3 separate regions of the Homo sapiens genome follow, and all the other regions are linked to region 2. The links come from fine-mapping of genetic effects on gene expression. A gene starts in region 2. Each other region holds a variant in brackets. All regions are shown on one strand. Distances are between the middles of the regions. Region 1 overlaps UBE3D (ubiquitin protein ligase E3D). Region 2 holds the start of RWDD2A (RWD domain containing 2A). Region 3 holds the start of UBE3D (ubiquitin protein ligase E3D).

What was found. PIP is the estimated chance that this variant, and not a neighbour inherited with it, causes the effect. A credible set is the group of variants that fine-mapping cannot tell apart.
Region 1: its variant is the best candidate, but not a certain one, in a credible set for the expression of RWDD2A in whole blood (TOPMed, PIP 0.51).
Region 3: its variant is the best candidate, but not a certain one, in a credible set for the expression of RWDD2A in whole blood (GTEx, PIP 0.60).

Annotation. Positions count from the first base shown.
Region 1 is chr6:82,902,903-82,910,811 of GRCh38, forward strand. All of the region lies in intron 9 of UBE3D (ubiquitin protein ligase E3D), which reads right to left. Among named protein-coding and RNA genes, the nearest start is that of UBE3D, 160 kb to the right of the region's middle. The variant A/G (reference allele first, on the strand shown) is at 4,914.
Region 2 is chr6:83,189,140-83,197,048 of GRCh38, forward strand. It overlaps RWDD2A (RWD domain containing 2A), which reads left to right and starts at 4,218. Exons shown (of 3, transcript NM_033411.5): 1 at 4,218-4,304; 2 at 5,173-5,513; 3 at 6,456-7,909. The coding sequence starts at 5,313. The coding sequence ends at 7,133. PGM3 (phosphoglucomutase 3) reads right to left here and starts at 4,126. Exons shown (of 13, transcript NM_015599.3): 1 at 4,040-4,126; 2 at 1,670-1,875. The coding sequence starts at 1,873. RefSeq lists silencers at 3,777-3,846, 4,147-4,516 and an enhancer at 4,089-4,588.
Region 3 is chr6:83,058,320-83,066,228 of GRCh38, forward strand. It overlaps UBE3D (ubiquitin protein ligase E3D), which reads right to left and starts at 7,522. Exons shown (of 10, transcript NM_198920.3): 1 at 7,323-7,522. The coding sequence starts at 7,399. The variant A/G (reference allele first, on the strand shown) is at 3,500.

The DNA.
Region 1 (7,909 bases), 290 kb before region 2:
TAATTCTACCCAAATTATAAGTGAAGACTCAAAGGTCAGAGAAGCTAGGTAACTTTTGATCATGGCTGTAAGCTAGTAACAAGACTAGGGGTGTGAGTAGATCTCTGTCTCTGAGCTTCACATTCATTCCATCATAAAAGCTCCCTTCCATTTAATTATGGTGAGAGATAATTGCTATTGTAACTTTAATTGACGAAGGAATCCATAATCCAATTTTAAGTCAGATTTAGTGCAGTTGAAATGATGCACGCATTCTTTTTTTTTTGTAGAGATGCGGTCTTACTTTGTAGCCCAGGCTGGTCTCAAACTGCTGGCTTCAAGTGATCCTCCCACCTCGGCCTCCCAAAGTGCTGGAATTAAGGGTGAGTCACCATGCCCAGCTAGCACCCCATTTTTTTGAGAAGAAAGTAGATTACTTCTTTTGGATTAGTGGTAAGGAGGAGAAAGAAGAGATAGAATGGCAAAGTAAATCCTACTCTTAAGAGAAAATAATTATTTGATTAGAGGAGAAAACTTTGGCAGAGGAGGAGAGCCAACAGGATAGATGACATATTGGCCTGAAATCTTGGGAAGGAATTTTTAAGTTTAGAAAGCTGGATACGTCACAGTAGCATAGTTGAATCAGTTCAGTAAAAACGATTATGACTTGGAATAATTAAATAACAGGTAAGTTCTGGCAAGAAAGGAATCAAAATGTAACCAGGTGCTCATTTTCTTTAGCTATTTACTACTCAGACATTCCTTTGAAAATATACTTAAGACATGCAAATTTTAAAAAGAAAAACATGCTAATATAGCCATTTAAGAATAAATACCATTTATTTCTTAAGTCTATCGTTTGGACTTGCTGGAAATAAAGAGGGGATCGCAAAACAGTAATTAGCCTGTTTGTTTTAAAGGAGGGGTAAATAATGGCTTATGAGGAGTTTATAAACGGTCATACCACAGAGGGGAACAAGCTGAAAAGCTGAAGAGGATGCTATGTGATGTTTCACCAGAAGCCTTGGGTTTTTTACTTTTAGCCACATGGAAGGCAAAGGGCGTTCTTTTATACAGAACTGTTCACTGAACTTTTCCAGGTCAAGGACAGTGTAGGGTATGGGACCAGAAAAAGACTCTCAGCATTCAAAGCGGTAGATTCTCCATGAGAAGCTGGAAGTCTCAGGTGGCTACCAGGAAGGTGCAGAAAGGTGAATTCTAATTGATATGAAAAGACTGGAGAATTGGAGATAAAGTACAGTAAGTCCCCAGTTAATGTTGTTGATAGGTTTTTGGAAACTGTGACTTTAAGTGAAATGAAGCATAATGAACCAATTTTTTATCATCAAAGTTATAATGAAATGACATTGAAGGAAACAATATTATTCAAGGACCTGCCAAACGTCATTTTACTTAAAGTCACAGTTTCCAAGAACCTATCAACCACGTTAAACGAGGACTACTGTACATTACACAGAGAGAAGTAAAAACAGATTAGTGTAAGAAGTCAGCAGTTTGTACACTGCTAGAGGTGGTGGGAGAGCAGAAAAATATAGGCTCTTGGGAGAGCTGAGATTGAATGCCTCCCCGACATTTACTAGCTGAATGACCTCTTGGAGCCTTAGCTCCCTCCAGTTCTGCCCACCAGTGGTTGTGGGGATTAGTAATAAAGGACATAAATGGCCTGGCAGGCCATGGCACAGATGAGGCCTTTGATAAATGGAAGAGCTTAATATTATTATACTAAACCTAAGTGTTTCTTTTAAATATTGCTGCAGATGCATCTCTTTTGCTGTCTGCTGCTAATGAACAAATTCATGTTTAATTGTTTATTTTTAAAGGAGAAGCATAAATGACTAATTGTGTATATAAATATCCAAGGCTTAAATAAGGCTTTTTTTCCTATGTTACCCTAAGTAACAAAACATCTACCAGTGACAGTCACTGAAATTGCAGATATTGCATCTGAAGAAGAAACTATAAACCTATAGCATTTTCAAATATAAGAATGTAGGTTGCTTAGTGTAAAATATCACCTGGTCCTTGAAAAATAACTTGAAGCCCAGAGGCCACTGGCTGGATTGTGTAGGGGGCGTCTAAAGGTTTGTAATGGGCAACACTCCTAGGGATTCAAACCAGCACATCCTGGATTGCTGACATAATCCACTCCTGAGAAATTCAACTCTGAATCCAGGATTAATGATTAAGCCATGGACCTTTAATATATGAAACTATTTGGCTGAATAGTCCTTTACTAATACAGGCACATCTCACTTATTCTGCTTTACTTTATTGTACTTTGCAGATACAGCATTTTTTACAAATTGAAGGTTTGCAGTAACCCTGCATTAAGCAAGTCTACTGGCCCCCATTTTTCCAACAACATGTGCTCACTTCATTTTTCTGCATCACATTTTGGTAATTCTCTCAATATTTTGAACTTTTCCTTTAATATTATACCTGTTACGGTGATCTATGATCAGTGATCACTGATGTTACTATTGTAATTATTTTGGGGCACCACAAATCATGCCCATATATAGCCACAAACTTAATCGATAAATGTTGTCTGTTCTGTCTGTACCAATGACCAGCCGTTACCCTGTCTTTCTCCCTCTCCTAGGGCCTCCCTAACATCTCACACAAAACAATACTGAAATTAGGCCAATTAATACCCTACAGTGGCCTCTAAATGTTCAAGTGGAAGGAAGAGCCACACATTTTTCACTTAAATCAAAAGCTAGAGAGAAAAATGTTTGGGGCAGGTTAGATCAGTGGATACTAATTTTTTCACTGCAACATACCAACAAACAAGGCCCGCAAGACACAGCTCCTTACTCAAGTCTAGTCATCCCAGCAGTCCTCCCTCCCTGTTCAAACATCTGCTTTTGTTCTCCAATAAACCCTTAACAGTAACAATCTGTAGTGTACTTAACTGGTTTTTTTTAGCTTATAAAAAATTTCAAATGTTAATATATTCTCTAGTAAAGATACAACAAATCTACATACATTTATTACCCAGAAACAATGATTATGAGCTCACGGCCATTGGTTTCATCCAAATCCCTGCCACAGACCTCTTCTGAAGCAAATCCCAGTCCTATTACTTCACATATAATTCAGTATATATCTTTAAAAGAGAAAGACTACTATAAAAATAAAACCACAATGCCATGATCACATTTAAAATATCAATAATTCCTTAATATAACCAAATATCCTATCAGTGACCAAATTTCTCCAACTAGCTCATACATTTTTTTTTTAACAGTTGGCGTTTGTTCAAATCAGAATCCAAATGTGGTCCACATATTACAATTAATAAGTCTTTTACACTGCTTTTAATTAATAGGTCCCTCTTCCTTCCCTTTTTCTCCATTTGCAATTTGTGTTTCAAAGAAATCAGGCTTTTTGTTCTGCAGAGTTTTCCAAAGACTGAAATGTGACCACTTTTATGCTTTTAGTGTCCTTATGAATTCATGGATTTGAAATATATTTGATATGCTTTAATCCACTGCAGTCATTCTCACTGATACTCAAACCTGCCCATCTTTGTCAGTAAAAACCTCTTCAACTTAGAGCCTAAGTCCTTTTGACGTGATCCTAGTAGTTTATAATAATTTGATTACTTTTTCCCTCACTTATGGTAAGACAGAACTCAGTCTTGTCTTGTACATTTCTTATCTCAGACATAGAATCAGCCATTTTCCCAAGAAACATGGTTCCTTTTAGTGGGGAATGGTACTTAGCCACCACATCTGGAGATTGCCTTACTGCTTACAAAGCACTTTGAACACTTAACCTCATGTATACACATAAGACAAGCCACTCCCCTTCTGCAGGCCACTGCCTTCCCTTTTCAAAGTGCAGCAAGAAAACACCCTGCTTCAAGTGTCTTTGTATCCTATTTAGAAACAAGGTTCTAAACTACTCAGAGATGAATCTTTCTATCTGGTTAGCTAAGTAGGACAGGCTAGAAAATACTGTCTTAAAACCATCTTAACAATCGAGTCATTTTATCGGACAAACTAAAACAAAAGAAAGTTCATGAGTCCCTCCCTTTTCCACTGTAATTAAAAGGAAATAGCTAAGCTTTATTATCAGAAAATAGGAATGGAAAAAAGGATCTTTCTAGATAGAGAACTTAATTCTTTTTAAACTAGGTAAAGACATTCCTGTATGGGTAAAAGAAAAATGGAGGGAGGAGTGAGAAATAACTGCTTCCAGAAAAAGGCTCACCACAAAACTCCCTTGGGCATGGAATTATAAAAGTGACTCACTGCCTTATGTGGGGACAGGTTCCTGCTGTTAATTTGCTTGTCAAAACTGTGGAAGGATGAGGTCGGGCTGTTGCTGTGTAGGGGCTGTAAGCACTGGAAGGCTATGCCATAGAAAATTAAAGTAGTTCTGCATACCTGTCTGGCTAATTAGGAGGAGTATTTCTAACCTCTAAGGAAAATACTCTCTAAACTCACAGGATGTTTGGAAATGGAAACAAACAAACAAAATCCAGAAGGCATGTTTCACAGTGGTTTTTATAATTTAGATCAAATTTATTCAGATGGCCAAAGGTTTCTCAGTCCCTGAGTTTCCTGTAAAACTCAAACCAATTACGGGTAGTGGTGGGGGATGTAGGAGGGGAACAGGACTCCTACAATCAATGATAAAAAGCCTTAAAACAGATCCTTCACAAGAGAAGATAAAGCACATGAAAAGGTGCTCATATCATTGGTTGTTAGGGAAATGCAAATGAAAATCATAATGAGATACCCAGAATAGTTAAATAAAAGATTGGCATCACCAAATGATGTCACTGATGAAGACACGGAACAGCCGGAGCTCTCAGACATGGTTGCTGGGAGTGTAAAATGGCACATGCACTTTGCAAAAGTGTTTAGCAGTTTATTAGAAGTTAAATATACATCTATCCTACA[A/G]CCCAGCAATTCCATTCCTAGATATGTACCTGAGAGAGATGAAAACAGGTCCACAAAAAGATTTTACCAGAATATTTACAGCAGCCTTATTCAAAACAGCCCCCAATAGGAAACAACCTAAGTGCCCATTAACAGGAGAACTGATGAACAAATTGTGGCATATTTATTCAGTGAAATACTTCTCTGCAACAAAAAAGAATGAACTACTGATAAATGCAATAATAGGGATAAATTGCAAAAACATTATGTTAAAGTGGGAGGTCGAGACAAAAAAGAGTACATACAGTATGATTCAATTTATACAAAGTGCAAATATAGACAAAATGAATCTAAGATGATAGAAAATAGAGACAATGGTTTTCAAAGAGGAACGATTAACTGCAAGACACCTGAAGGGAACTTTATGGGAAATGGATATGATCTAAATCTTCTTTTAGGATAATGGTTACATGGGTGTGTATTAGTGGTTCTCAACCAGGGGACATTTGGCAATGCGTGGAGACATTTTTGGTTGTCATAACTAGGGGAATGCTACTGGCATCTGGTAGGCAGAGGCCCGGGATGAACAGGACAGCTCTCTACAATAAAAAAAAATCCATCTTAAAATGTCAATAGTTGGGTACAATGTACACTATTTGGGTGACACTAATGGCTGGACTTCACCACTATACAATTCATCCTTGTAACCAAAAACCACTTGTACCTCTAGAGCTACTGAAATACGAAAATAAGAAATAAAACAAAAAGAAACTCAGCAACACCTTTCCTAACTCCAAAATGTGGTTGAAGATTGGGGGAAAAAATTTCATATTTCAATCCTATGAGTTCCACTGTTCAATAAATGCATTACATATACAAACTGTGCTTAATACATGTTTATTAAAAATATTAGGAGAAAGATGGATGGGGTATAGGACTTCTTGTCAACAGCTCTCCTTTCAAATACACTCTTCCTTTCTTCCCTTCCTCCACTGCATAACTTACTCACGTACTATGCTACTCGAAACTTCCTGAAGGCCTCAGGGAGATATTTATACAGCCAGGGCACAGAGACAGTCCTGGGGTCATAAAGCAGTGTGGGACTGGAGCAGGGCCTGGCTCAGGCTGCAGGTGAGTCAGTCCAGGTTTCCCAGGAAGCCTCAGCATTTCACTTGCCCCTCTCTGTAGTGCCACACTTTTCCTGGCCCCATGGCTCTGTGCTCAATTAATGCAGTCTGAAGTAGTCACAGGGAGTGTGGCAAGTGTGCAGGTGGGTGAGGACTTCTGAAGGGGTTACCCCTGTCCCACAGGTCACAGTAACAAACTGGCAACGGACTTCTGTGGTTCTCTCTGAATCTAAGAGAACATTCCTGATAACAAGTTAAAAGTTGTTCTTCAGTGGAAAGAAAAATGGATCCAAAAATATGCTGTGAACTAGTAGTTTAGGGTACCGGTACTATTAACTCTGATGTTTGCAGAAAACAAGTAGCTTACAACTCAGGTTACCAAAGTTGAATTGCATAAACATTTTCTTCCTTGGGGGAATCTGAACTGTATAACATTAGCCTTTCTGCCAGTGATTTTCAGGCCTTCCCTAACACTTACAATGGTACCCAGAATATATTCTCTGCTAAGCCTGGAGGCAGCCCTGTACAGCTAAGCCATTCAAGAGATATTATTCAGAAATGCCTCCAGAGGAGATGCTGCAGAGCTCCTTCAATATTCTGGCCCTCTCCACAGCTAAGAATTTTTTTCCTTAGGTTTAAATTAGCTGACTTTTAACATAAGCATTCACATCTGCTTTCTTTCCCTTTGTGCAAGGGTAGCTGCTTCAAATTTTGGGTGGGGCAAATTAGAACTCTTAGGTTGGAAAAGCTGCTCACAAAAACTTCATCACTTACTCACTCTTAGAAGCTTCAAGTTTTGTACTTGTCTGTCACCTTCATGTTGATTCTCTGGGATTCGAGGTCTATGAGCAATGAAGCCCATTAGCTAAATTCTTTTGGAAACCTGACAACATCGCACTGTGCAGTTGTTCCTGTGGGCACATCTGCTGCACAGTAGGGGAATGAAATTGGATGCGATCCTTCCCCTTCCTCCCAACTTCACTGTTTAAAATGGCACTGAGTTTTAGAAGTGATCTTGGGGGACTAGAAAGGCACCCTTGCACTTTGGTCACTACCCTCAACGTGTTCAAATGCTCCAGCTTTATGTTCATCATCGATTAAACACTTGAATTTGTGATTCCCGAAAGCTACTTCTTAGACTGGGATTCAAGAAAAGAGGAAAAGCACTGGTGATTTTAAATTCCCACACTTTGCCTGTGACACAGTCCACACACACAGACACTGAGTAGGGAACCAAATGCCTCTTCCTGACGACACTTTGTGCTTTAGATTTCCCAATAAAACCCTTGCGTATCCACTCCTGCCTGCAAAGGGACCATTCATGTGGAAGCACAACATCTTATCTAAATCTCTGTATATCTCTCTATGAGGTCTTGTACACAGAAGGTTTTCAGTAAATATTTGTTGCCTGGAATGAATGATTGGACAAATTAATTATATAACTAGAATCTAGGTTTATTACTTTTCTGCATCAACATCAGAGAAAATAACCTTTTATAGGATGGAGCTGAAAAGAGACTGGGAGATTTGTTATTTTCAACCCCAGTACTCTATTACTTCCACATTACTTGGCAAAACATCCTGCCCAGAAAATGATCTGCTCTTTAAAACTTTGCTCAGAGCTCTGCTCTGTACTGCCTCACAAGCCTCAAAGTTGAGACCAAGGTGCCACAGCCCTCACTGCTCTCCTGGTTCTGCAGAGACGGCTGTCACAGAGCAGCATTCCAGAGGTTCCATGGTGATTTCCTATTTTTTTTTCTTTCTTTCACAAAAGCTGTTGGGGTAACATTGCAAGAGTCCAAGAATTAGAATTAGGTGATACATTTTCAAGTTGAAAACATAAAAATAAACTCAATTGGCAACTGATTTAAAATGTAGGAATTAGGCAGG
Region 2 (7,909 bases):
AAAAACACTATGCCACACTAGCCTTTGTAAAAGGCTGTGATCTGTGCATCCACTATCCATAAACTGACTAGGGCACAAGTGGAGCAGAATAAGGGCACACAGAGATCCTTCTCACTATGACTCGGAACTCCAAGAACACACTAGCCAGCTTGTCAACCAGCGGGTAGGACAGACACTGAAAACTGCCTCCCAACACTGTTCTGCTCAAATTCGTGGAAAGAAAGTGTAGTTCACAGTGAATGTCACCTGAAAGAAAAGAGAATCATTTTGAGAAGTGCCTCTGGAACTAGCAATAAATGTGAGGGTCTTCCTAGAAGTCAATCAGTCAATCAATTATGGTGACTTACATATTTAGACATATACACATTTATAATGATCACATATTTGGACAAGCAATGCCCTTGTTTGGGGGAAGAGGAGGTTACAATCCTTCACAGACCTACACCACTTTAACTTGCTGCTGATTTAGCTACAAAGGCAAAAATCCCACAGCCCCAGCAATCAAATAGAAGCATATTATTCAAACCCTGTATTAATGGCCTATAGCTAATAAAGAATAACTACATTGTGTCAAGAGGTTGGCTAAGATATAGAAACAACAAAAGTGCTCATAAACAGATAAATGGATGAAGAAAATGTGGTATATATACACAATAGAATATTATTCAGCCTTAAAAAAGAAATACTGCCATTTGCATCATGGTTGAATCTGGAAGACATTATGCGAAGTTAAATAAGCCAGACACATGAAGACAAATACTGCAGGCTCATAACATACATGTGTTATGTAAAAAAGTGAAACTCACAGAAACACAGAGTAGTATGGTGGCGGCTAGAGGGTAAGGGAAATGGGGAGATGCTGGCCAATGGGCATAAACTTGCAGTTATAAGATGAATAAGTTCTGGAAGACTAACGTACAGCGTGGTGACTATAGTTCATAATAATATATATTGAAAATGTGTTGAGCGTACGTCTTAAGTATTCCCACCACAAAACAAGGTAACTATGTGAGCTAATGGATATGTTAATTAGCCTGATAGTGGTAATCATTTCACAATGTATACATATATCAAAACATGGTGTTGTATGACTTGAATTATACAATTTTTATTTATCACTTATACCTCAATAAAGCTGAAAAAATAATTGTGTCAAAAAGAATACTTTGATTAAAATCTAACTGTCACAAAGACTAGAACTATCAGGCGTCATCAATATTCTGCCAAAGCTCACCTGTTTGTTCATTCAGAACAAGAAATTATTGCCGAGCTATAAAAACCTGTCTGAAAATGTTCAAAATGTTTCTTTTCAAATCTTTACCCTTCCCCACCCAACCCCAATATCTTTAATCACTGCTAAGTTAACAAAGGAAACAATTTTCAATTACTGAAAATGTCTTAAATCAATAAATTTGGAAGGACATTGTTATTTCTCTAATATGGACACTCCAAAAAATGACAGTATCTTTTCATTCTTTCCACACCCTTAGGAATCATGAGCTTAATGATCATGCTCTTAAAAAAAAAAAGTTGTTTCACATCCAAAGCACATATAAATGAGAAGGCACATTCCTAGAATTAGAATTTGTACTTTAGGTCAATTTGCTCAGACACTAAGGCTTGGTCTTGTAAATAATGGTCTGCTTTATCAGGGCACTAAACCCATTACCTCAGGATTGTGGGACGCTGTTACCATGACTCCTATAGTGGATTTTGTCTGTTTTGACCTCAGGACAGCTAATAATCCCATGCGAAACATGACATGATCAAGATGTTCTGCCTTCGTTCGAAATCCAGCAGTCCCGTATTGAAGGATCAGTCCATTGGGCTTGGCGTGTAATGCTGAGTATTTTGTAATAGCACCTAAATCCATGTCTACAAAATTAAGAAATATTGTTTCGGGCATAACAAGTAATTTCTTAAGAACCATTTGCTTCAAAAACTGCCACCCCAAACGAATAGGTCTGTCTCATCCTGAACCTCCTCAAAGAACCCTATGTTTGACAGAGCAATGGGCAGGAGAGTAAGTCCTGTGGGTTAGAATTACCTACAAGATGTTGTCCAACTTGGTATGTCCACTCCTGGGCAGACTCAGGGCAGATAGCAGATTGTCCCCACTCTCCTCCCATTTTAGCTCCAGGACTATCCTGGACGCCGGGCACACTTAAATTGGTCCACTCTCAACTAAAATGAAGATTTTACACCTATTCAGAGACTCCAATGAGCTCAAAGATCATTTCATTTTACAAAAAGGGAAACTAACCTAAATTAACATAGATAGCTGGTGACGGATTGAGGCCTAAAGTCAGATTCTTGAGTGGACTGAAACTACATATCCCCAAATATCTGAGAAATCTTTGTGGTTCTTTTGCTATTTCTCCCAAACTACAGAGACATATTCTTAAAGGAAAAGCAAAAGGCAACAGTTTCTTCTCCAAGACTACCCAGATCTTTTTCCATTTGCTAAAAACAATCAGGACACCCTTCTAAGATGTTGCTCTAAAACTAGCAATATCTTCTTCTGAAAGAATGCCACCTTTTTCCTTTACTTTTAAAAATAAAACATCGGCCGGGAGCGGTGGCTCACGCCAGTAATCTTAGCACTTTGAGAGGCCAAGGCAGGCGGATCACCTGAGGTCAGGAGTTTGAAACCAGCCTGGCCAACATGGCGAAACCGCCTCTCTATTAAAAATACAAAAAAATTAGTCGGGCGTGTTAGCTGGCGCCTGTAATCCCAGCTACTCGGGAGGCAGAGGTTGCAGTGAGCCGAGATCGCGCCACTGCACTCCAGCCTGGGTGACAAAGGGAGACTCGGTCTCAAAAAAAAAAAAAAAAAAAAAAAACAGGCCAGGTGAGGTGGCTCAGGCCTGTAATCCCGGCATTTTGGGAGGCCAAGGCGGGCGGATCACGAGGTCAGGAATTCAAGACCAGCCTGACCAACATGGTGAGACCCTTGTCTCTACTAAAAATACAAAAAGTAGCCTGGCGTGGTGGTGCGCGCCTGTAGTCCCAGCTACTCAGGAGGCTGACGCAGGAGAATCGCTTGAACCCGCGGGTGGAGGTCGCAGTGAGCCGAGATCGCGCCACTGCACTCCAGGCTGGGCGACAGGGTGAGACTCCGTCTCAAAACAAACAACAACAAAAAATCGGCCCTTAGCCCACTAATACTGTTTTCTCTGGGATACTCCCATTAAGTGGAACTTGGGGTTTCCAACCTCAGTCAGTAGTTTTCCTTCAGTAGTCCATATACTACATTTCCTGGGTCAATTAATTCCCAATTAGCCCAGAGATGAGGAGCAGTCCGCCAGCTGCTAGCCTCATAATTTTGTTTTCTTTATTGTCCTTCATTGCTTCAATGAACAGAACTTGCAAGAAATGGTGAAAAATACTTGCTTTTGTCCAGTTGGAAAAAGCTGGCATTCAGTAAACTAATTTAGTTCAAGACAGTGATCAGATCTCTTTCCTAAGGATGAATACATATTTGTAAAAACTGAGCAGTCAGTTATGTGTCATGATTATTCATAAGAGTGTAAACCAGTCCTGTTAACTCCAAAAAGCCATTAAAAAAAAAAAGGTCCAGATAATATGAGTTCATCCTTTCATGCGTTTTAGGCCCTACAACTACTTTCAATGCCTCTGCGAATGCCTTTATTGAAAGCATATTTGCCAAATCCAGCGTCCACGCAAAAAGTTAAGAGTATCCCCCTACTCTCCATTCAATCTTCAAATCTCCTTGGTGCCTCTCTCCCGCCTACCCTCGAATCACCGCACAAGGGTGATTCCCGGCACTCCACCCTGAGGTCCCCGCCTAGGTCCACGTACCAGAGCCCCGGCAGGAGACCCGCGGCCCGTCCCGACCAGCCCGCCCGCGGGGCGCAGGGGCCTGTAGGTGTGTCCCGCGCGCTCCGCCGCTCGGTCAGTCGCCCGCCAGACCACTAGCCCCTCCGTCGGGCCGAGAATCTGACCTGTCCCGCTCCCACCGAGCCCTTGCCGACCGGTAGTCTCCCTTCTCAACTCCGAGCCTCGGGGCCCGGCTTACCTCGGTCAGGAAGCCCCCTTCACCTACACGCAGCGGAGAAGCGCCCAAGCAACAACGTCTGCACCCAAACCCAGTCCTCAGAACCGCAGACGTGGCCCTGCGTGGCTTCCGGCTCGTCGCCACGCCCCCTGGCCAATCACGGCAGAGGACTATCCGCCAGCCCCGCCCCCGCCTCGCCGCAGGTCGCGCGCAGCTGGCGCCTGAGGAACTGCGGCTGCGGTTCCGAGCGGGGTCTGGGGCTGTTACCATTGAGTGACCAGAAAGGGTGAGGCCCCCGCGGTGGCCCGGGGGTTGGGGCCGAGGGTCGCGGGCCCTCAGAGCACTGCGGCCGCGGAGGCACAGCCTCCGCCTCCAAATCCGGGCCTCTGGGGGCGGCAGGCCCTGCGTTCCTGGGAAGCCGGGGTTCCTAGTGGTCTTGGCTAGGGGCGGGGGTGGGGAATCAGCCCCGTCGCTGGGCCTCGGACAGGGCGACCTCGCCCACAGTGAGCGCCGCCGGCGGCCCGCATCCCCCTCTCCGACGTCGAGGTCATCTCCCAAACCTTTGAATCTGGGAAGCCTTCTCCGGCTGCCGTCTCCCCGGGTACCCCCTTCCCCCAGCTCACTGTAAACATCTTTTATTTAATGACCTCTGAGACACCCCCTACCCTTATCCTGGGTCCCTCGGGGCAGAGGCCAGTGAATCGTAAACGTCCGGAGCCCTGGAATGCGGCCCAAGCGAAAAGGCCACCGCGGTGTTGGGGGGGGGCGGTCCGCGAGTCCAGGACCGAGGGGTGGCGACTGGCGCTGGGGAACTCGGAGCCCATCCTGCTGGCACTGCGGCCTCTCTCGCCGCAGCGTCTGGCTCCGCCCAAGCCCGAGCCCCGGGTGGGATTGGAAGCCGGGCCCCAGCCTTTCCCAGAATTCAGGCTTGCAGAGCGTCTGCAGGTGTCTGCCTGCCACCTGCAGCGGGACAGTTCCAAACACCTGTTGAAAGTGCAGATTCCCCTATCTAGTGCGGGGTGCGGGAGGCGGGAACCCGGAGCCCGGGTACGCAGAATATGGGTTTTTACGGAGTGTTTTAGAGGATGTTGTGCATACTAGATTTTGGAGTCAGGAAATAAAGAAGAGTGCAAGTGTCTGGTTTGTGCCCCTAGCTCTCGGTGCAAAGCGTTCCTGCAGAATTGCTTCCACGTAAAGGGACCTTCGGGAAATTTCGCTGGATACCGGCTGGCATTGACAAACCCAGCGTCCCTGAGCCTTGTGAGGTTTCCAGGCAGGCTGATTGCGAGGCAACATGTCTGCTTCGGTGAAAGAAAGCCTTCAGCTTCAGCTACTGGAGATGGAAATGCTGTTTTCTATGTTTCCTAACCAAGGAGAAGTAAAACTTGAAGATGTAAATGCCCTGACGAATATAAAGAGGTATTTGGAAGGCACAAGGGAGGCGCTGCCACCAAAAATCGAATTTGTAATTACACTCCAGATTGAAGAGCCCAAGGTAGGTACCCTGATTTAAGTGTTTGCCAGGTGCCCAGTTTTTAATTGAAACATCTAGAACATGAGCTTTCTGTCAAGGAAAGATAGAAATATTCCAGGTGCATATTTCCTTGTTTGAAAGATACGGAATGCTCTATAAATTGTCTTCAGTAAATATCTTTAATTTTATGTAAACATATACACCTTTTTAACAAATATACCTGGAGTTTTTATTGACGCTATCTTGCAGTCTTATGCCATTATTATTTTGTTCACCCATCCAGTTGGACTACCTTTCACATGTATCATGATTTTCATAAATCTAAATATCTCCTGTAACATAACTGTCTTTTAAGGAGTGAATGAGTGGATTTTTTGATGGCACCATAACACAGAAAGCAAATATGGATGGAAAAATCTAAAGACTAAAAATGAATTTACCTCCATCTTCTGATCCATTTATCTCCAGCAACATTAGCATAGCATAGGTAATACGTGGACTGGGCATTTGAGAACCACTGTTGTAGCTATTTCCTACTCATCCTTCAGTTGTTATTCCCTCAGAGGAGACTTTCTGGTTCTCCAGACTGGATTCTGTCCCGCTGGTTACACACTTCAATGGAACCCTCCACTTTTCCATGGTAATGCTTTTCACAATTGAAATTAAATACTTGCTATATGTAATTATTTGTTTAATGTGTGTCTCCTTCACTAGGCCCTGGACTTCATGAAGGGCAAAAATAGTGTCTGGTTTATTCACTTTTTTATCCCAGCACAAGGGCACCTGGCACACGTAGTTGTTCAATAAATATTGAAATAATGCATAAAAGGAAGCAATCATGTATGTAAAGTACCTGGTACATTTAATAGTAGCAATAACATTTCTCAAAATCATGCAGTTGCTATTGATAAACTAGCTTATGTGATGTTATGGTATTTAAATCTATTTGATTTTCATTTTAAGGTGAAAATTGATTTGCAAGTGACCATGCCTCACAGCTACCCCTATGTAGCATTGCAGCTGTTTGGACGGTCATCTGAACTTGACAGACATCAGCAGCTACTTCTCAACAAAGGTCTCACTTCTTACATAGGGACTTTTGATCCAGGTGAGCTCTGTGTATGTGCAGCAATCCAGTGGCTACAGGACAACAGTGCATCTTATTTCCTGAACAGAAAGCTTGTATATGAACCATCTACACAAGCAAAGCCAGTCAAGAACACATTCCTCCGAATGTGGATCTACAGTCACCATATATATCAGCAGGACCTAAGGAAAAAGATTTTGGATGTTGGGAAAAGGTTAGATGTGACTGGATTTTGCATGACAGGAAAGCCTGGTATAATCTGTGTGGAGGGTTTCAAAGAGCACTGTGAGGAGTTCTGGCACACAATTAGGTACCCCAATTGGAAGCACATTTCCTGTAAGCATGCTGAAAGCGTGGAGACAGAAGGAAATGGTGAGGACCTGCGCCTTTTCCATTCTTTTGAAGAGTTACTCCTTGAGGCTCATGGTGACTATGGATTAAGGAATGACTATCACATGAATCTGGGCCAATTCTTAGAATTTCTCAAGAAGCACAAAAGTGAGCATGTTTTTCAGATACTATTTGGTATTGAAAGCAAAAGTTCAGACTCATAAAAAGCGATTAAGAGGCCTATGCCTGTAATTTCACTAAGTCAGTATTTCTGTTAATAAGACCAAATTAAAAAGGCTAGTGGCTGTGTAGCATCCTCAGTGCAAAACCCAGCTCCAGAATTTTCACCTGGTAACGAATTTCAACTGACAGTGAAATGAATAGGCCTTTAAACTTTATAACATTGCAATTGTGATGTTATCTCTAGGTTTTTGTGTGAAGTCATTCAAAAACTATTTCATTGTAAATTAATAAAAACAATCCATTTAACTTGTGAAGCTGATTTGATTGAAGAGGAATCCAAAGCCCATAACTAACATCAAAAATCAAACTGCAATTATGAATTGAGAAATATGAATAGCATTTGTTTCACATTGCTAGCACACATGTGACACACCCACTTGTCTTTCATTATTGGAAATCTAAATCAAGTTTAAAATGAGAACAGGAAGGACATGTTTACTTCCTTTTTTGAGACGGTGCGATCTCGGCTCACTGCATCCTCAGCTTCCCAGGTTCAAGCGATTCTCCTGCCTCAGCCTCCCAAGTAGCTGGGACTACAGGCGTGCGCCACCACGCCCAGCTAATTGTTATATTTTTAGTAGAGACAGGGTTTCATCATGTTGGCTAGGATGGTCTCAATCTCTTAACCTCGTGATCTGCCTGCCTCGGCCTTCCAAAGTGCTGGGATTACAGGTGTGAGCCACCGCGCCCAGCCCGTTTACTTCATTTCTTACTTTAAACTCCTATTTCGAGTGTTTTAGTAAAACTAGATCCTAAT
Region 3 (7,909 bases), 130 kb before region 2:
TTATTTCATATACAAGATTTTAATAAAGAGACCAAGATTCAGTGAAACAATGATACAAGACAAAAACCTGTCAATTTTAAGAATAAAAAGAATTAATGAAGAAAACGATACAGTGATGTATGAATATCAGGTGTGAAAGGACTTACTAATCCAATTCAGAGCAAACACAAATTACTCAGTATAGGCAATAAAGAGTAAAACACAGTCCCTGTCAAAAGCCCCCAGGCATCAAAAGTATAGAGGGGATAAAGGCATCTATGGAAATGACCCTCCTCTGAAACTGCAATACGCTTAGCAATGCAACAGAGGTACAAAGTACCATGGCTCCCTCTTAAGTGCAGACAGCAGGTCATCCACATGGTGTCAACTAAGTGCAGACAGCAAGCCATTTGCTTGAGTGTCATCTGAGTACAGAGGGTAGACCATGTGCTCAGGTGTGGATCTTGGTTAGGCCTTAGAAATCTGCCTTAGAAAATCTTATAGCTACTTTCTGGCTAGTTCCTTTTCAAAGCATATGGATCTGCACTTAGTTAGCAATACAGAATATTAAGCATCTGAGTTTTTTGCAGGGATGACAGTTTCAAACCTGAGTCAAAAGTTCAATTTCAAGAAATGGTGTTTAAGAAATAATGATCCTCTAAAACAAGAGTCAGCAACTTTATTTCTGTGAAAGACCAGATAGTAAATATTTTAGGCTTTATGAGCCATGTATGGTCTCAAAGTAGAATACATATTATACTTTTTATTTTTTAAAAAACAACCCTTAAAAAATGTAAAATCAGCAGGTCGAGGTAGCTCACTCCTCTAATCCTAGCACTTTGGGAGGCTGAGGTGGGAGGATGGTTTGAGCCAAGAAGTTTGAGACCAGCCTGGGCAACAAAGCAAGGCTCTGGCTCTACAAAAAAATAAAAAATAAAAAATCAGCTGGGTATAGTGGCACGCACCTGTAGTCCTAGCCACTCAGGAGGCTGAGATGGGGAGGATCACTTAAGCCCAGGAGGCTGCAGTGAGCCATGATCACGCCAATGCATGTCAGCCTGGGCGACAGATCAAGAACCTGTCTAAAAGAAAAAAAGATACAGAAGAAAAATCCAACTCTTAGCTCACAGGCTGTACCAAAACAGGCTGCAGGTAGGATTTGGCCAATGGGCCATAGTTCTCTGACCACTGCTCTAAAGATAACACAATGTCCATTTGCTACCTCAATGACTTTCAAACTAGACTGTGTAGAGTTGACACTTCCAAGTGCCGCAAGAGATACCACTGGGTTCCTAAGTCCCCATTGCCACCCCATCTCTGGTTTATCACATTTCTTCCCAGTCCCAAAAACTTTAGTCATTTTATAGGGCCAAGCAAGAGAAGCATCATTGCAAGGGTGGTGACACAGTGGCCCAGCACGGATTTGAGAAACTAAGCAGACTGTGGAGGGCATCCATAGGGCCAAGCAAGGGAGGCATCAGTGCAAGGGTGGTGACACAGTGGCCCAGCATGGATATGAGAAACCAAGCAGGCTGTGGAGGGCATCCACCAGGAGGACCACTCAGCAGGGGTGTCAAATCCCAAGACAGGTGAGGAGGAAATCTGAACAGGAGGTGAGGCCAGCTCAGGATGGGGTTTCAGAGCCTGTCTTAGCTCAGCTGCTATAACAAAATACTATAGATGGGTGGCTTAAACAACAGACATGGCAGAGTAAGGAAGTTCAGTGCCTCTTCCTCTTCATATAAGGACACTAATCTCATCAGGGGGGCCCCGCCCTCAAGAACTCATCTAAATCTAACTACCTCCCAAAGCCCCATCTCCTAACACCATCACTTTGGGGGTTAGGGCTTCAACATGTACATTTTGAGGGGACACAAACATTCAGTCCATAACAGGGTCCAAGCAGGTGAGGAGAGTGTCAACAATGAGCAGGGGGAGGTGGCAAAGGATGCCAGCAGACTATTAATTACATAGAGGGAGACTGACAAAATAAATAAATGCCACTAGGACAATGAGGGCCATGATTCTCACTGTGGGAGAATGGAGTTACAAAAAGAGAAAGCGAGGAAACTAGAATAGACCCTATGGTGGTGGGGCAGAATTAGAAATACCTGTGTGAAGTCATGGTTTTCAATGTTTACAAATAGATACAGTAATATTGATGGTTGTAAATGCATGTATGTACATAGGTATGTAGGCACAACCATACATAGACATCATATATAAGTCATACACACATACCCTAGTTCTGGGAGAAGCGACATCCAACAGTGATGAGTACACTTAGTGCCCAGATCTTGGTTTGTAAAGGCCATTTTCTGCTTTAAAAAACGAAATGAACAAACCAGAAACAAAGTTCCTCAGTAAAATGACTACATCCAGGGCTGTAACAGGGAAAGAATGAAATATGCCTGGAACATGTTGCTGGAACATGAAGAAATCAAAGAATGACAGGTACCTACCAAAAAAGACGCAGAAACCATCCAGAAAGGACTTCCTTGGCCACATCTGGTATAATATGAACAAAAAAGTAGCCCATTGAATAAAATAAAAAATAAAACCCACTGAGTAACCCACAGTAAGAATCATGTATCCTTACTGACACACAAATGAATAAAATGAAACTCTGATGAGGAACAGGGTATTTACATAATCTCAGAATACCTCTCCAATTACTGATTATGAAGAGAAAAAGAGTAACTTTAAGGTAGAGAAGCATGGCAGACACTATCTTACTTTAAGTGCTCAAAGTTAACATAACCAATTTGATGGAACAAAGCAAAATCATGTGCCACCTGACAGGAAGCCTCACTTCTGTTATATTCCTGCCAAAGATGCAAAATCTGAATCTTGTCTTGAAGAAACATAAGACAAATCCAAATGGAAGGATATTCTACAAAATGATTGTACTATCATCTTGCAAAGTGTCAGGACCATGAAAGTCAATGGAAAATGAGGAACTCTTCTAGATTGAAACAGACAGAGGAAGCATGACAGTGAAATGCAATGCCTTATTCTGAACTGGATTCTTCTGTTATTAGGGATATTATGTAGACAACTGGTAAAACATGAATGATGTAAGATGGTAGCAACACATTTCCCAATTGTGAGTGTTGGATGATGGTTCTTTAGGAGAATTCCTACTTTAAGACTAAGTTTGATTGACATAGTTCATACAATAATTTCATACTTGAGGCTTTCTTCACCATTGACTTGTATTCTGTCAGGTATCACAACTGCTTAAAACTATCCAATGACTTCATCTCTCACTCTAACTACAAGCTAAAGTCCTTTCGATGGTCCATAAGGCACAGTGGTATAGCAGGCCCTGCTGCTACAAGCTTTGGAGAACCTGTTGTTAAAATTCTAGGAGTTCTGCAAAGCAGGTCAACTCACCTCACCCAGTTGGTAGGCTGAAGGTCATACGTGGTGAAAGTATTCACACCAAAGAAATCAACAAATGCTTCAAATCAAGACCTTAGTTTGTCTTTTTGTTTATTTTCATGGAGAGTAGGTTATT[A/G]AACATGTACCAGCACACTGCCATAAGATCTTTTACTATGTGTTCCCCCAACTCACCCGCATCTCTCTGAACTAGGCACCCTTTCATACTCACTTTCTCTCAAAGGGAAATTGTCTCCCACCAGGTATGGCAGTTCTACACCTCACCAGTTACAGTTTAATACTCAAATGTTAGTTTCTCATTTGAAATAAAAGATTGTAACTTTTTTCTCCCCATTCCTTTTTTGTTTAATTTTTTTCTCCACTTCTATCAAATATATATTTATTTTGTATATTCTCTGCCGCCTCTTCTCTACTGCCACCATTAAACCCTATGCTCAACAAAGGCAGGTGTTTTTGTCTTTGCTGTTGTTACTGTTCATGGCTGTATTCTCAGCACTTAGAATTTGAATTTTTGGCACTAGAGTAAGAACACAATAAACATCTGTGGATTGAATAAATGAATGGCCAAAGTTTATCCCAAAATGCTAAGATATCTTAATATAAATAGATCTTTACATCTGTGAATGTAAACTTTGGAAGCCAGACTCTTTTTCACAACCCACTATGGCAGGAATTAATCCATTCCTGAGAGAGAACTCACCCAACCATCTCCATGGGAGGGCATTAATCTATTCAAGAAGAATCTGCCCTCAGGAACCACGCACCTCCCACTAGGCCCTATGTCTCAACACTGCCACATTGGGGATCAAAGTGAGAAAACATAGGGACAAAACACATCCAAACCATAGCAGTTAGGAACAAGAACACCAATATTTAAATTAACTATAAAATATACTAAACATTTTAATTAGAACACACAGATCATCAGAACAGATTTAAAATCACCCAACTATATATTTTTAAAACTAGCATACAGTTTTATGCTATTTTTAGGGAAATACAGTATTTTTACAGCTTTTTGCTTTATACAGAAAGACATAAGAAAGGTTAAAAAGGTAGAAAGGACACACTATGCAAACAGTATAGTCAACTGATTTCTCATGAAGACTGAGTTATTTTAATGGGAGAAATGATGGCCTTTTCAACTGATGGTGATAGAATAAATGAATATCCTTATACCAAAAAAAGAACTTTGATCCCTACTTCACTGCAAACACAAAAATGAATTCAACATGATCACAGATCAAAATGTGAAAGCTAAAACGATATAACTCCTAGAAAATAAACCTGCCAAAACATCTTCACAGCCTTAAGGTAGGCAAAGATTTAAGACACCAAAAAAACTAACCCTTAAGGAATAAAAAAACGATAGAGTGGACTTCATTAAAATTAAAATTTCTGTTCATCAAAGGACACTATCAAAAAAACGAGGCAGGGCATGGTGGCTCATACCTGTAATCCCAGCACTTTGGGAGTCCAAAGTGGGTGGATCGCTTGAGTCCAGGAGTTCAAGACCAGCATGGGCAATATGGTGAAACCCTATCTCTACAAAAAAATACAAAAATTAGCTGGGCATGGTGGCATGCAACTTGTATCCCAGCTACTCCAGAGGCTGAGGTGGGAGGATTGCTTGAGCCCAGGAGGTTGAGGCTGCAGTGAGCCATGATCACACCACTGCACTGTAGCCTGGGCAGTAGAGCAAGACGCTGTCTAAAAAAAAAAAAAAAAAAAAAAAAAGAAAAGAAAATGAAAAGTTAAGTCACAGATAAGAATAGTCATATATTCACAAGGCATTTATGTGAGAAAGCTCTTGTTTTGAGACAGTATAAAGAACTCTCAATTAAACAAGACAAATAATCTGATTATGGGCAAAAAAAATTAGAAGATACTTTTAAAAAGAACATATATGAATTGCTAAAAAGCAAGTGAAAAGGCACTCAACATTATTAGTCATCGGTAAAATGAAAATTAAAACCACAAGATACTATTTTACACACACTAGAATGGTTCAAACTAAAAGGACTGATAATACTAAATGTAAGTCAAAATGTAAAGTAGTTGAAACTCATTTTTTTTCTGGTTGAACGTGCAAACTGGTACAATCACTTTGGAGAACTGTTTGGCAATTTCTCACAAAGTAACATGCACATCTATCCTATGACCCAGAAATTTCACTCTTAGGTACTTACCTAAAAAGAAATGAAAATGTATGTCCAAAAAAAGATTTATACAACAGTGTTATGACAGCTGTATTCATAATAAGCAAACTCCAGAAACAAGAAAAACATCCAGCAATAGGAGAACAGATAAATGAATTGTGGTATATTCATACAATGGAAAACTTAGCAAGAAAAAGGAATGGACTACTGATATATGCAGCCACATAGATGGAACGTGAATCTGAAAAATATTATGGAAGGAATGCAGCCAGAAACAAAAAAGTATATATTGTATGAATCCATTTATAAGTAGTTCAAGAAATGGCAAAACTAAGTCCAGCAAAGTTAGGTTTCTTTTTTTTTCTTTTTATTTTTTATTTTTTGAGACGGAGTCTCTTTCTGTTGCCAGGCTGAACTGCAGTGGCGCGATCTCAGCTCACTGCAACCTCCGCCTCCCGGGTTCACTCCATTCTCCTGCCTCAGCCTCCTGAGTAGCTGGGACTGACTAAAGGTGCGCGCCACCACACCCAGCTAATTTTTGTATTTTTAGTAGAGACAGGGTTTCACCATGTTGGCCAGGATGGTCTTGATCTCTTGACCTCGTGATCCGCCCGCCTCAGCCTCCCAATGTGCTGGGATTACAGGCATGAGCCACCCGGGTACCTTGCCTAAACAAAGGAGAGTAGTCCAAGGGAACTGTGAAAGGCCCCTGCATGAGAGGAAGGGAGGGTTTGTTGTGTGTGTGTGGTTTTTGTTTTATTTTGGTAGGGTTTGGGTTCCTAATTACTCTACAAGGTGCACCAGAATTGGAGATATTTGTCCAAATTCATAAATTTTGAAAGAGAAAAAGAAATACATTCAGAGTACTATTATTCCCATTTCAAGATTGAAGAAATTCAGATTAAATTATTCTAATTTCGTGAGGAAGCTAGCATTTGAACTCAGTTCTCACGCCATATTCCAAATTGCCACACCAGATATCTGGCAGATTTAGGGAAGAGGAAAAAATTAAGCATCAATCTACCTGTGGCACCGTGTAATACCATTCTCAGGATTTTAACTTCTAACTTACTCTCTTTGAAACAGCGATCACAAAGGAATAGACAAGGGGACCACAAATCATTAAAACTGCTGTCAAACAAAATAGAGAACATTTTTCCTAAAAGTTATTTGTGTAGCGAATAACAAGTTTGACGTTCTCACTGGAAGGAAGAATATGAATAAATGAACGAGCTCCAGTAAGAAGTCTACAACCTGTCTTAGTGGTTCACTAAACTCACGTTTATTGAATGATTGTGTGGTTTCTCTGCAAAGAGCAGTTTTGGACGAAAAGACCCGAGGTTATTTACAAAACAAGAAGCTCACATAGGAACTGATCCAGTAAGGAGGATCCCGAAGAGAGACAGACAAATCATTTTTTGCATTGTTTTGTTGGAAACGCCGGGCACTGCCAACAGTGTTTTACATCACTGTTCCTCAAATTTTAATGTGCATTTGATTCCTGGAAATCTTGTTAAAATATAAGTTTTGATTCCATAAGTCTGGTGTGGAGCTGAGACCCTGAATTTCTAAAAAGCTCCCCAAAGATACCCACACTGTCAGTAGGGGTGGGAGTGGCGGAGCCGACTACAGGGGAAAGCTTCACTTTGAGTGATCGAGAGGCTCTACGCAACTGGAAAGAAGAAACTCAAAATCCCTCGTACAGAGAGAGACTCACCAGCCCCCGACCCCCGGGCAGCAGTAAAGCGAGCTGGGCACTGCGCCTAGAATCCCAGTTCTTACCCCAGGATCAGAAGCGCGCTCTGCAGCTGTCCCCGCACCTCCAGAAACACGCGCGTCTCCGCCGCAGAAGCCGCCATGGCAGGCTTCCAGTCCCAGACCGGACCAAGCTGGAGGTTCCGAGGGGCCCGGGTCAACAGGACCAGGAGAGGTTCCACGTGCGGACCAACCAGCGGCAGCCCCGCTGCGGCGCAGGCGCCTGTGCCAGATCGCAGGGCTGGCGCCGCCTACCAGCTCACAGCGCCACCTGCCGGCCGGAGAGTGCACCACCGAGAAGGCGCGTGACCCCGGAGGCCGGGGCGGGGCGCGCATTTTCAAAACCAGGCTTTGGCCCAGAGTGCTGAGAAAGGTGGGCGGCGAGAGGCTAGCTATCGCCCCACTCTGCTTCTTATGAGCGTGACTTGGCGCGTTAGCATCCCTGGAAATGACCATAAAAATCAGACCCAGGGTTCACACCTTTGGCTAGCTCGAAGGGAGGGAGATGATGGAGGCAAGTGTTACAGGTGGGCTTTGTCCCCAGGAGATGCAAGAACAGAATTCCCGGCCCCAAACCCACTTTATCTTGGTCTCTTTATGAACAAGGGTCGTTT